Regions from separate parts of the Homo sapiens genome. Here region 2 is linked to region 1. A link means that fine-mapping ties the variant in region 1 to the expression of a gene that starts in the linked region. Tissue or cell type: cerebellum. Region 1 holds a variant in brackets; the other region holds the start of a gene. All regions are shown on one strand. Distances are between the middles of the regions.

What was found. PIP is the estimated chance that this variant, and not a neighbour inherited with it, causes the effect.
Region 2: GPC1 starts here. The variant in region 1 is fine-mapped to the expression of GPC1 in cerebellum (GTEx, PIP 0.95).

The regions. Positions count from the first base shown.
Region 1 is chr2:240,457,503-240,462,686 of GRCh38, forward strand. It overlaps GPC1 (glypican 1), which reads left to right. Exons shown (of 9, transcript NM_002081.3): 2 at 1,528-1,686; 3 at 4,689-5,080. Among named protein-coding and RNA genes, the nearest start is that of GPC1-AS1, 3.4 kb to the left of the region's middle. RefSeq lists enhancers at 402-1,053, 1,054-1,703, 1,704-2,354. The variant T/C (reference allele first, on the strand shown) is at 2,659.
Region 2 is chr2:240,432,574-240,437,786 of GRCh38, forward strand. GPC1 (glypican 1) reads left to right here and starts at 3,090. Exons shown (of 9, transcript NM_002081.3): 1 at 3,090-3,511. The coding sequence starts at 3,346. RefSeq lists enhancers at 1,459-1,753, 2,153-2,729, 4,463-5,039, 5,091-5,213 and silencers at 2,559-3,218, 3,279-3,338.

The DNA of each region.
Region 1 (5,184 bases):
GGCCTCTAGTGGGTAAGGGCTTCCTGGACCCCAGGCCTGAGGGGTGACTTCTCTTGCAGTAAGCGGGTAGGGCACTGCCTGCGCTGCTCCAGGCCCTGCCTGCAGTGGGGCTACAGATCCCTGCTCCCACCTCCAGGCAGGGCTGGAGCTGCTGCCAGCTCCCCCAGGACAGCCTCGAGCCAGGTGCCTCTGCCCGGGCTGACCCCGCCCTCGGTCCCGGTCCTGGCTCCCTCTCCTGCCTCTCCTCCCTGGCCTGGCCTTCACTTCCTGCTGACCCTCAGGAGGGCGTAAAAGAATGCAGGACCTGCTGCATTCCAGCCACCCTGGCCCAGGGTCCCAGAACAGGATGAGACAGGCCCCTGAGGCGGCAGTCCTGAGGAAAGTTGCTGGAATTCCTGCTGACAACGCCCCCCCTTGACCCCACCCCTCTGACCAAGCCAGGCTCCTGCTTCCACCTCTCCACTGTGCCTGACCTAGGCCAGCACCAGGAGGGCCTTAGAGGCGGGGGACGAGGCCCAGAAGGAACAGTGTGGCCCCGTCAGTGTGGAGTCCTGAGCTTAGGCAGCCGGAACCACTTGCCCCCTCACTGTATAGCTGGGACGAGACCTCATCCCTGTAAGCCCCGGTTTTCTGGTTAATAAAATGAGGATTGCGGCAGCCTTCATCACAGTGCGATGCACACCCTTTAAAAAATGCAGTTTTTCCTGATGCCACACACCCATTCCAGGTGGGCCCTGAGGTGTGCACAGCAGGGCTGAGAGCTGACTCAAAGCCTGTCCTGTCCCCACTCCCCACAAGGAGGTGAAGCTGTCTCTGATGGCAGTGCCGCTGTCACTGCCTCGGACGCTGGAGCAGAGTAGCTCATGGCAGGCTGCAGAGGAGGGGACTCCACAAGGACACCAGGAGGCACAGGGTGCACCCTGCAGGGCTTGGGGCATGGTCCAATGACCCTTTCATGGGGCCTGCCAGCTGCACCAGAGCACACCTGCCCCCATACCAGACTCGTGCCTGGGGTCCTGCAGGGCCACTGCCTCTGACCAGCCCACTGTTGGTGGGATCTGCCGTCCTTGCAGTGGGAGCTTGGTGCCCCCCAGGGCTGGTGTGGGAAGAGAGGGGGATTGGATTCCTTCCTCCTTCCCCATCCTCAGACATGGGCCCAGGCAAGGGGTGCCTTTCGGGCCTGGGAGCCTTCTCCACACTTGCACACAGGAACCTGAGGCCAGTTCTTTGCTTGCAGCTGCTGGGACAGCAGGCTGGGGGGCAGGACTTGCCCAAGGGGCCTCCTGCCCTGTAGAGGCAGCCGTGCTCTTGTGTCACGTGTGGGAAGCTACGGGACCGAAGCCAGGCCTTTTCCTCCCTCCACACCCCGACCACTTCTGCCTTCACCCAGGGCACCCCCCAGGCTGGCCCACCCCTGAGCTGTGCTCCACCCTGGGTCTGCCATCCTGCCCAGGAGAGCCTGAGGGTGCCCTCCTGGCTCCCAGTGCTGTCCCAGCCCCTCTCCCTCACACTGGCCTTTCCCCACAGGTGAGCACCTGCGGATCTGTCCCCAGGGCTACACCTGCTGCACCAGCGAGATGGAGGAGAACCTGGCCAACCGCAGCCATGCCGAGCTGGAGACCGCGCTCCGGGACAGCAGCCGCGTCCTGCAGGCCATGCTTGCCACCCAGCTGCGCAGCTTCGATGGTGAGTGCCTCCCACGGGCGCTCGGGGCCCGCAGGGTGCCGGTGCATCGGGGGAGGGGCACACTGGGCCTTGCCTGGTGTGTCAATGCCAAGGGTGGGGGATTGGCAGGAGGAGGTGGGGGAGTTAGTGCTTTGGGGCTAGGGCGCTGGGTTGAAGCCCCAGCTGGGATTTGGGGGCTGCCCTCAGGCAGGGATCTGCAGGGTTTGACACCCCCCTGGGAGTGTGCACAGCCCATTCCCAGTGCACATTTGGGGACAGAGGGCCTATCCCATCAGCCCCTCAGAGGCTCCTGTCACCAGCAGATTCTCCTGAGCACCTGCAGGGAGACAGGCCTTGGCCAAATCCTGCCTGCAGCTCGTCAAGTGCCCCAGGCCACTGCCCCTGGGGACCAGGTGGCCTGGAGCCAGGGAGCTCAGTGCAAGGGCTGAGACTGGGGCTGGGGACAGGGCTGCAGAGTGCAGGGCCTGCCTGGGGTGGCCGCCACTCAGCCCTTTATATCGGGGCAGGAGTCTGGGGGCCGCGGGGAGTGACCCCTGCAGGCCTTGAGGCCCCGCCAGCTGCTGCATTAGAGCCACGTACTCCTCGGCCCAGGCTGGGCCTCGCCTTGTGTCTGGGCAGAGAGTGGCAGCCACCCCCAGGGGGACAGTGTGGGGTCAGGAGGTCCTCCATGAAGTGACCTCTGATCAGAAACACGAGGACTTGGTGGAGGGAGGCGGCCCGGGCTGAGGTACTGCCCCTGTGTCCGGGCGGAGCCAGGGCGCCGGGACAGTGAGCCTGGGCAGACAGGAGGGAGGGAGCGCTGAGGCTGCAGGGCTCCATTGTGGCTGTGAGGGACGGCAGCTGCTGCTGGGGCCCTGGGGTTTGTCTCAGCGTTCCTGCTTCTCCGGCTCCTGGACACCTGCTGTGGCCTCCCAGGCTCCCGGGAGAGTCTGCCTGTCCCCAGGAGCCCCCAAGGCCATTTCCACAGGGCTG[T/C]GGGACCTCAGCTGTTGGCGTACACCTGGGTAGCAGTGGGTCAGAAGCTCCCTCTCTGTGACTTGGACATCGATGCTCAGAGCTCAGCCCTCCCCGCTGGTGTGGGGCCCGTGGGATGCGCGTGGCCCCTCTGGGACTCTCCTTCCTCCTGCCCAGCTGGACCCGGGGAGCGAGCCCCTGCACCCTGAGTCAGGAGCCTTCCTGAGCCACTTGGTTCTGTCCCATGTGTAGGGACCCGGCTCACCTCCTCCACTCTATCCTGGGCCTCAGTTTCTCCCCAGCGCCGCTGAGCCCTGGCTCCCGCCCCAGCGTGCCACCCAGCCCTGCCCCTTCCCCTCTCCTGCTAATACCCTTGCCCATCACACCATCCTCCTGGCCTGGGGACATCCTGCCCGCCTGCTTCCTCCTGGCTCTTAGGGGGTTGGTGTCGCTGCCCTGCTCTGGGGCCTGTCCCGTGTCAGTGCCCTGCCGCCGCCCTCCCTCTGCTGCCCTCTGGAAGCCTCCAGCCTTCCTGTTCAACTCTCCTATCTTTGACCTGAAAACACAGACACCCTTTGGGGACATTTGTATTAAAAATGACCCACTATGTGATGTGCCCAAGGCCCACCTGTGCCCCTACCCCAGGGAGTCTTGTCCAACCCCCACCTCCTATGTCCTCCCCTCCCACCCCTGCCCATGGCAGCTGCTGTCCCCTCCCAGCCTCCGGGGCAGCTGAGGGCCCCTGGGTCTTTGTCTGCAGTGCTGGTGGGAACCAGTGGGAGGCGGTAGGAGGGGAGCCTGGCTGGACCTCTGGTTGCTGTGTTCAGGGATTTGGAGCCCTGTGTCCGCCCCCCCACCAGCCTTCAGGAGCAGCTGAATGGGTTCTGGCAGGAGGTAGAGCTGGGGACTGCACCTGGATTTGGCCCATGGCCCTCTAGGTGTGTCTGGGCTAATGCATGAACCACAAGCCGCCCCTTTCCGGGACAGGCCAGGGCGTTCCAGGCGCCAGGACCCAAGGTGGACACTGGACAGCTGTGTGGCCCGTCCACCCTCCCCACAGCGGCCTGGGAGCTCTCTGTAGCCCTGCCAGCCCTGAAGCCCCAGGCCTTGCCAGGGGTCAGCGTGGGGGCTGATCCAGAGATCTCAGGCTTGACGGCCCCCGTGCCTCAAAGGAGAGCCTCTGCCCTGCTACCCTGGAGCACCTTGTGGTGGGCCATCGAGCCCCCGGTACCTGTGGGGCAAAGCCGGCCACAGCCCTAGGGACGCTCTGAGCAGTTACAGACCTGGAAGTCCCACTTCCAAATGGGATGGGGAAGTCCAGGGTCCCATCTAGGCCCGGGGTACGGGGGCTTTTCCCTAAAGCCCCTGCAGCACATGTGGAGGTCTGAGGGTGAGCCTGTGCCTCCACACCCCCTGCCCAGCAGGGGAGATGTCTGGGGTTCTAGGCTGCAGGAGGCCCCCCAGAGCCCTCAGACAGGCCCGGGGTGCTCACAGCTGAAGCTTCTAAATCGCAGAAGCTGAGAGAAGACAAGAAGCCTAGGAGAGCAGCCGAGACAGGGTGGCGGGAGGGGCAGCAGCCCTGGAGACTCGCAGGGCAGGCGGCTGGGGCCACGGGGAGCACAAGTGGGGACCAGTGGAGAGAAGGAGCGGCTGGCAGGGGGGCACAGACCGGCCCTGCCCCTCTTACCCCAGTGAGTCCCCATCTCCACCAGCAGCCCCTCCCTGGGTGTTCTCAGGGGGTCACTGAGTCACAGAGCATCTGTTCTGCCCAGGGCTCAGCTCAGAAACTGCCACTGGAGCCCCAGTCAGAGGCCCTGAGACCCGAGAGGACCCCCTGCCACCTGGGCCCCTGCTCCCCAGGCCAGGGGGTGAGGTCTCGGGGCGCCCCATGGATGCCCACAGGGCCCACAGCCGCTGCAGTGTGGCGTCCGACTCCGAGGTCCTCAGAGTGTATCCTCAGAGCTGAGTCTCCCGGGCTGAGTCCCCTGCTCTGGTCCAGCTGCCACGGCGGGGGAAACATGGTCCCGATCACGCCCCCTCCCTGTGCGCAGACCACTTCCAGCACCTGCTGAACGACTCGGAGCGGACGCTGCAGGCCACCTTCCCCGGCGCCTTCGGAGAGCTGTACACGCAGAACGCGAGGGCCTTCCGGGACCTGTACTCAGAGCTGCGCCTGTACTACCGCGGTGCCAACCTGCACCTGGAGGAGACGCTGGCCGAGTTCTGGGCCCGCCTGCTCGAGCGCCTCTTCAAGCAGCTGCACCCCCAGCTGCTGCTGCCTGATGACTACCTGGACTGCCTGGGCAAGCAGGCCGAGGCGCTGCGGCCCTTCGGGGAGGCCCCGAGAGAGCTGCGCCTGCGGGCCACCCGTGCCTTCGTGGCTGCTCGCTCCTTTGTGCAGGGCCTGGGCGTGGCCAGCGACGTGGTCCGGAAAGTGGCTCAGGTGCGCACAGCCACCCAGGGCTCTCAGAAACCCCTCCAGACCCCCATGCTCTGCCCAAGGGACTTCCTCTTCCCCCTACTTTAACCCTGTGCCCCTGGGCCTCT
Region 2 (5,213 bases), 25 kb before region 1:
GGGTGCTCTAACAGATCAGATGCCACATCCCAGCCAGCCCTAGTCCACGCCCTTGAACCCCTGCTGTCTGCAGGCACACGCGCGCACTCCTGCCTCCCACGGCCAGTAGGACAGGGCTCTCGTAGGTAGGGATGCTACAGGCAGTGACATTCACAAGAAGGCAGCCATGGATGGCAGCGACAACAATCGCTCAGTCTGTTTGGAAACTTACTTTTGGAGTCTCCGAAAGACAATCCCTGAAACCAAACAGAAAGGGAAGCTGTCCGTCCATGGCAGCGGGCAAGGGCGTGCACACTCACGAGGGTTCCACGGAGCAAAAGTAGGATAATTTCTGGGCAGACCTGCCGTCCGAACGGCTGGGAGCTGCGGGCCCCCCGGCGCTCCCTGTGTCTTCTGAGCAGAGACCAGGCTCAGCATCCCGCAGACCCCCACCCTCCCTAGGCAGAGGCAGGAGTGGGCCCTAAGCCAGCAGTACACGCCCTCCAGGACCTGGGGTCCTCCACAGAAGATGGGGGCATGGAAGGGAGGCCCCCACGCCCTGGCCCAACAGGCACTGCCTGCCTCAGCCCGTCAGACAATGCTAAGTGTCCTCTGCCCTCACTGCACCTGTGGAAGAGCAGGTCCAGGCTGCGCCACACGCCCACTCTCAGGGACAAACTTTTCCTCTCAGGTGTTTCCTCACTTGCTCATTCATTCCTTCTTTGTGTCGCATACGTGTGCCCCCACTGTCTAGCCAGGCAAAGACACCAAAGCAGGAGGGGGTGGTCTTGGTCAGAGCCACAAGGGTCACTGTGGTGGCTGGGATTCGAGGCATCAACTATGTCCTCAAACCCATCCACGTGTCCTGTGTGGAGCGGCCCCAGGGACAGCGGTGGAAGAGGGGGCTGATCAGCCTTGCCCATCCTCCCAGAGTCCCAGTCTGGACCCTGCACCCGACTAGCACGGGCAGCCTGGCGGCTCCTGCCCTGGTGACAGCGGGCGTGTGCAGCATTGCCAGGAGGGAAGCAGGGGTAGCTGCAGCTGCTCAGGATCCTGCGGCTCCTCCCAGGTGCAAACACGGCTTTTGCTTCCAATGCCCCCGGCGGCATGTGCATCCTCTCCAGGGAAGGCCCTGGCTACAGGTCTCCTGGCCTGCGGAATGGGAATGATTCCAGGACCTGCGATGGTGGTAAGGACTTCCTTAGGAGATGAAGCCACCCAGGGGTCACCAGGGCCAGGCAGAGGCTGCCACCATCGCGTTCTAAGCCCTGCTGTCCACACTGCCATCCAGAGGCCCAGAACTAGGCTGGAGGAAGGACTTGCCTGGAGGAATAACCCAACCTGGTCAGATTAAGAGGAGGCGTAGACAGTGACGGGGTAACTATAGAGCCTCAGGCCGGGTTAACCTCAAGTCCAGCTTCCTAGGCCCAGGCAGCCCTGCCTGATCCCGCAGTGCGTGAGACCACACAGAGAGAGAGCGGGATCGTGGGCCCAGGCTCCTGACCGTGCTGGATAAGGTGTGCAGGCAGCCACGCCAGGCCCAGGCAAGAAGGAGCAAGCCTGGAGCATGTACTGAACAGGGGTCTGTGAGTCACAAAATGTGACGCAGCAGAGGGTATGTGGGGGAGGGCAGGGAAATGCACACTTGGATTGGGTCCCCAAAGCCTCCCTCTCCAGCAATGACTCAGTGTCTCTGGGTGAAGGAGCAACCTTCTCTGGGAGGCAGGGCAGGAAACCCCAAGAGCCCAGGGGGAGGGCACCCCACCTTCCTGCTCCAGCCCCACACAGCGGCTGAGAGCCCCAGGCACAGAAGGGGTAGGGAATGTTGCCACCACCCCCACCACGGACCCCGCTGCAGCTTCCAGGTGATGCCACAGGCCCTGAAATCAGGACACCCTTGCTGTACATGGGGGTCATCTTGAGGTTCTCTGCCAAGGATACTGACCTCTATGCCTGCCCCCAATTCTGCAGCTCAGGCACCTGGCTTCACCGCCAGGCCTTACCATGTGGAGAACAGGGGGCCGGGGTGGGGGGTCTGGGAGCCAAGGAAGGAGTGAAGCCCTCCAGACACCAACATCGCAGTCCTCGCCCCCTCCCTACAGACCCCATCCAGCCCAACTCCCCATGTGCAGCTAAAGCCACGCGCCCTCCTACCATACAAGGTGCAGGCAGCCCTCCCGCCTTCTTCAAAGAGGCATCTGCTCCGGCTCACTCCACCCTCCTCCCCCAGTGGCCTAACTAGTCGCCGGGTTCCAACCCTATCCCTTCTCCAGAGGTCATCTGGCCCCACCCAGCAGCCCAAACCAGTAGACCGGCCCTGCCCCATCACTTTGGTTTCTCCAGCATCCAAAGAACGTGGAGGGTCACCCCCCCAAAACAGCTGTCAAGGTCCAACAATTAAGCCATCTGTTGCCGCTCCCTGGGACTGGGAGAGGTGAGGTCGAGTTTCTTGGCGAGTTTCCTGCGTGCAGCCCCCACACCACAAAAGCCCCCGGTGCGAGCCGGAGCCCAGCGCGAGACGGCTGGAAGGGCGCGGGGAGGGAGCCGCTGCGGGGTGCAGGCGGGGAGAGGGGCGGCGGCTCGAGGCGCGGCCGGCGGGCGGAGGGTACGGAGGCGCCGGGAGAGCGTTCTCGGGGCGCGCTGCCAGGGTGCAGGAAGCCGGAGCGCGCGGGAGGGAGCGGGGAGCGGGATGCCGATTTCGGCTGGGGGCGGGGAGGCCCCTGATTGGGGCGCGGGAGGCGTGATGTCACGTCCGGCGGGGGAAGCCCTGCCTCGCGCACCCTCCGCCCCCGTCCCCGCCCCCACAGGTGGTGCCACCGCCCTGGGCGCTGGGCGTGGGGGGCCGCCCTCGGGGACCCCGGCCGCGGCCCCGCGCTGCCCGGCTCCGCCGCCTCCCGCCGGGGATCGATAGAGTCGCGCGGCCAGGCGGGCCCTCTGGGTCCCTAAGAGCCAGAGGAGCGCCCAGTGCGCCCCGGCCCGCGCCCCCGCGCCGCGCCCCGCCCCGCCCCGCCCGGTGCTCCCAGTCCCTCCCCCACCCCTGCGCTCCCACCCTGCCCCGCCCCTCTCCTCTCCCGCGGCCGCCTAGGGGCCGGGCCGGCGGCGGGGGAGGCGCCGAGCCGGGACTGCGCTAGCCCGCCGCGCTCTGGGCTGCCCGAGCGAGCGTTCGGACCTCGCACCCCGCGCGCCCCGCGCCGCCGCCGCCGCCGGCTTTTGTTGTCTCCGCCTCCTCGGCCGCCGCCGCCTCTGGACCGCGAGCCGCGCGCGCCGGGACCTTGGCTCTGCCCTTCGCGGGCGGGAACTGCGCAGGACCCGGCCAGGATCCGAGAGAGGCGCGGGCGGGTGGCCGGGGGCGCCGCCGGCCCCGCCATGGAGCTCCGGGCCCGAGGCTGGTGGCTGCTATGTGCGGCCGCAGCGCTGGTCGCCTGCGCCCGCGGGGACCCGGCCAGCAAGAGCCGGAGCTGCGGCGAGGTCCGCCAGATCTACGGAGCCAAGGGCTTCAGCCTGAGCGACGTGCCCCAGGCGGAGATCTCGGGTGAGTGAGGGCGCGGCGCCGGGAACCCGGGCCTGGCCGGGCTTTGGGCTCCGGACCCTGGTCTTCCCGACGCGGCTACTCGCCCCCGGCGCGGGATCCTGCCGCCTGCGCCCCGCCGCCCGGGCCCCGAATGGCTCCCTGCGCTGCGGCTCCTCTGCAACCCCACGGCCCTCGCCTCCAAGCCCCGCGCCGCACTCCCTCGCCAGGGTCTCCTCCGCCCCGCTCGGTCGTCCTCCGCCCCTCCCCGCCCCCCGCACGCCGGCTTCTTCCCTGCGGAGCTGATCTCGCCGGGCTGCGGGCTCGGGGCGCTCCTCCCGGGCCACGGCTGGAGCTGGGCGTCTTCTGCCCGCCGCTCGGCCCAGCGCGCCTGCAGGCCGGGAGTCCCAGCCCCGGGGCCGGCTGTCGGGGCGCTGTGGGGCTCGGCGTGGCCGGGCTTTCGGGGCGCCGCTGACGGTGGCCGCGGACCCCTTCTGCTCTGTACAGACCTCTCTGGGAGGCGTCTCCGGTCCTGCCCGGGGATTCTCGTAGGGTCTCCAGCAAAGGCAGCCTAGGTGGGTTTTATAAGCTGACCCCCTCGGGGGGTAGTGCGGAGGGGTGGGGAGGGAGCTGGGCACTTATCCGCGGGCGGAACGCCGCCGCCTCGTAGAGATTCCTGTCGAAGAACTTGTACGCGCCGGCCCCCGCCTGGCGCTTGGGCAGCCTCGTGCCGCGAGTCCAGCTGCAGGTGGTCGGCGCGTTGGATCCCGCCCAGGGGCCGTGTCATTTCTTTGTAAGAACAGCGGCCCTCTTGGCGCCCCCTAAGCCCTGCAGCCGCCTGCGGCTCTGCCTCTTCCCTCCCTGTGGTCCCGGAGGAGCTTTGGGGACAGAAGTGTACGGGTGGGTGGAACGGTGGGCTCCGTGTGCTAAGGAACTCTTGGAACCCAAGCTTCACCTTTCCACGTGTGGGAACCAACCTCGGTCTGTACCGCGTGCCAGGGACCCAGTGGGCAAGAACAAAACAGACTAGGTTCCTGCTCTGGGGGGCTCCTCTGAAACCAGGGGAGTGGGAGTGCGGGTGGAGGGCTACTCAGATGGGGACTCAGCGCAGAAATGCCCATGGTCCTGGGGATTCTGAGCAAGAAGGATCCGTGCATCTGGGTGAGGGGGGTCTGTGGCCATGCCTTGCCGCGGGGGGCGGAGTGGTGGGAGGAGGCAGTCGGGCTCTGGACCCCTGCCCCTCCAGGAGGAACAGAACCCACAGACAGCCCCTTGCCCTTGGTGGATCTCCCGATGCCCCCAGCCTGAGGTTCTTGTAAGGGCCCCCTGACCGCCCCCCACAGAAGGAACAGAACCCGCAGACAGTCCCTTGGCGGATCTCCCGATGCCCTCCCCACCAGCCTGAGGTTCTTGCAAGGACCCCTCCAAAGTCCCCAGGACAGGCCTTCCTGTGCCTCTGCAGAGGCAACCCTGTCATTTCCAGGCTGCCCCCCTCACCCCACTGGGCTCTGTCTGTCCCAGGTAGGGGGCACACCTGGATGCCAGGCAGCACAAGGCCCTCGGCACAGTTGGGTTCGTTCTCTGCCCCTCTACTCACACATAAAGAGGCATCCCTGGCCTTCCTGGTGAATCCCTCCCCAGGCACCAGGGTAGCAGAGTGGCTGAGTGGCTGCCCCTCCCAGCCCAGAGTCTTGAACCCTGCTCCTTTGGAAACCATTAGCCCCCA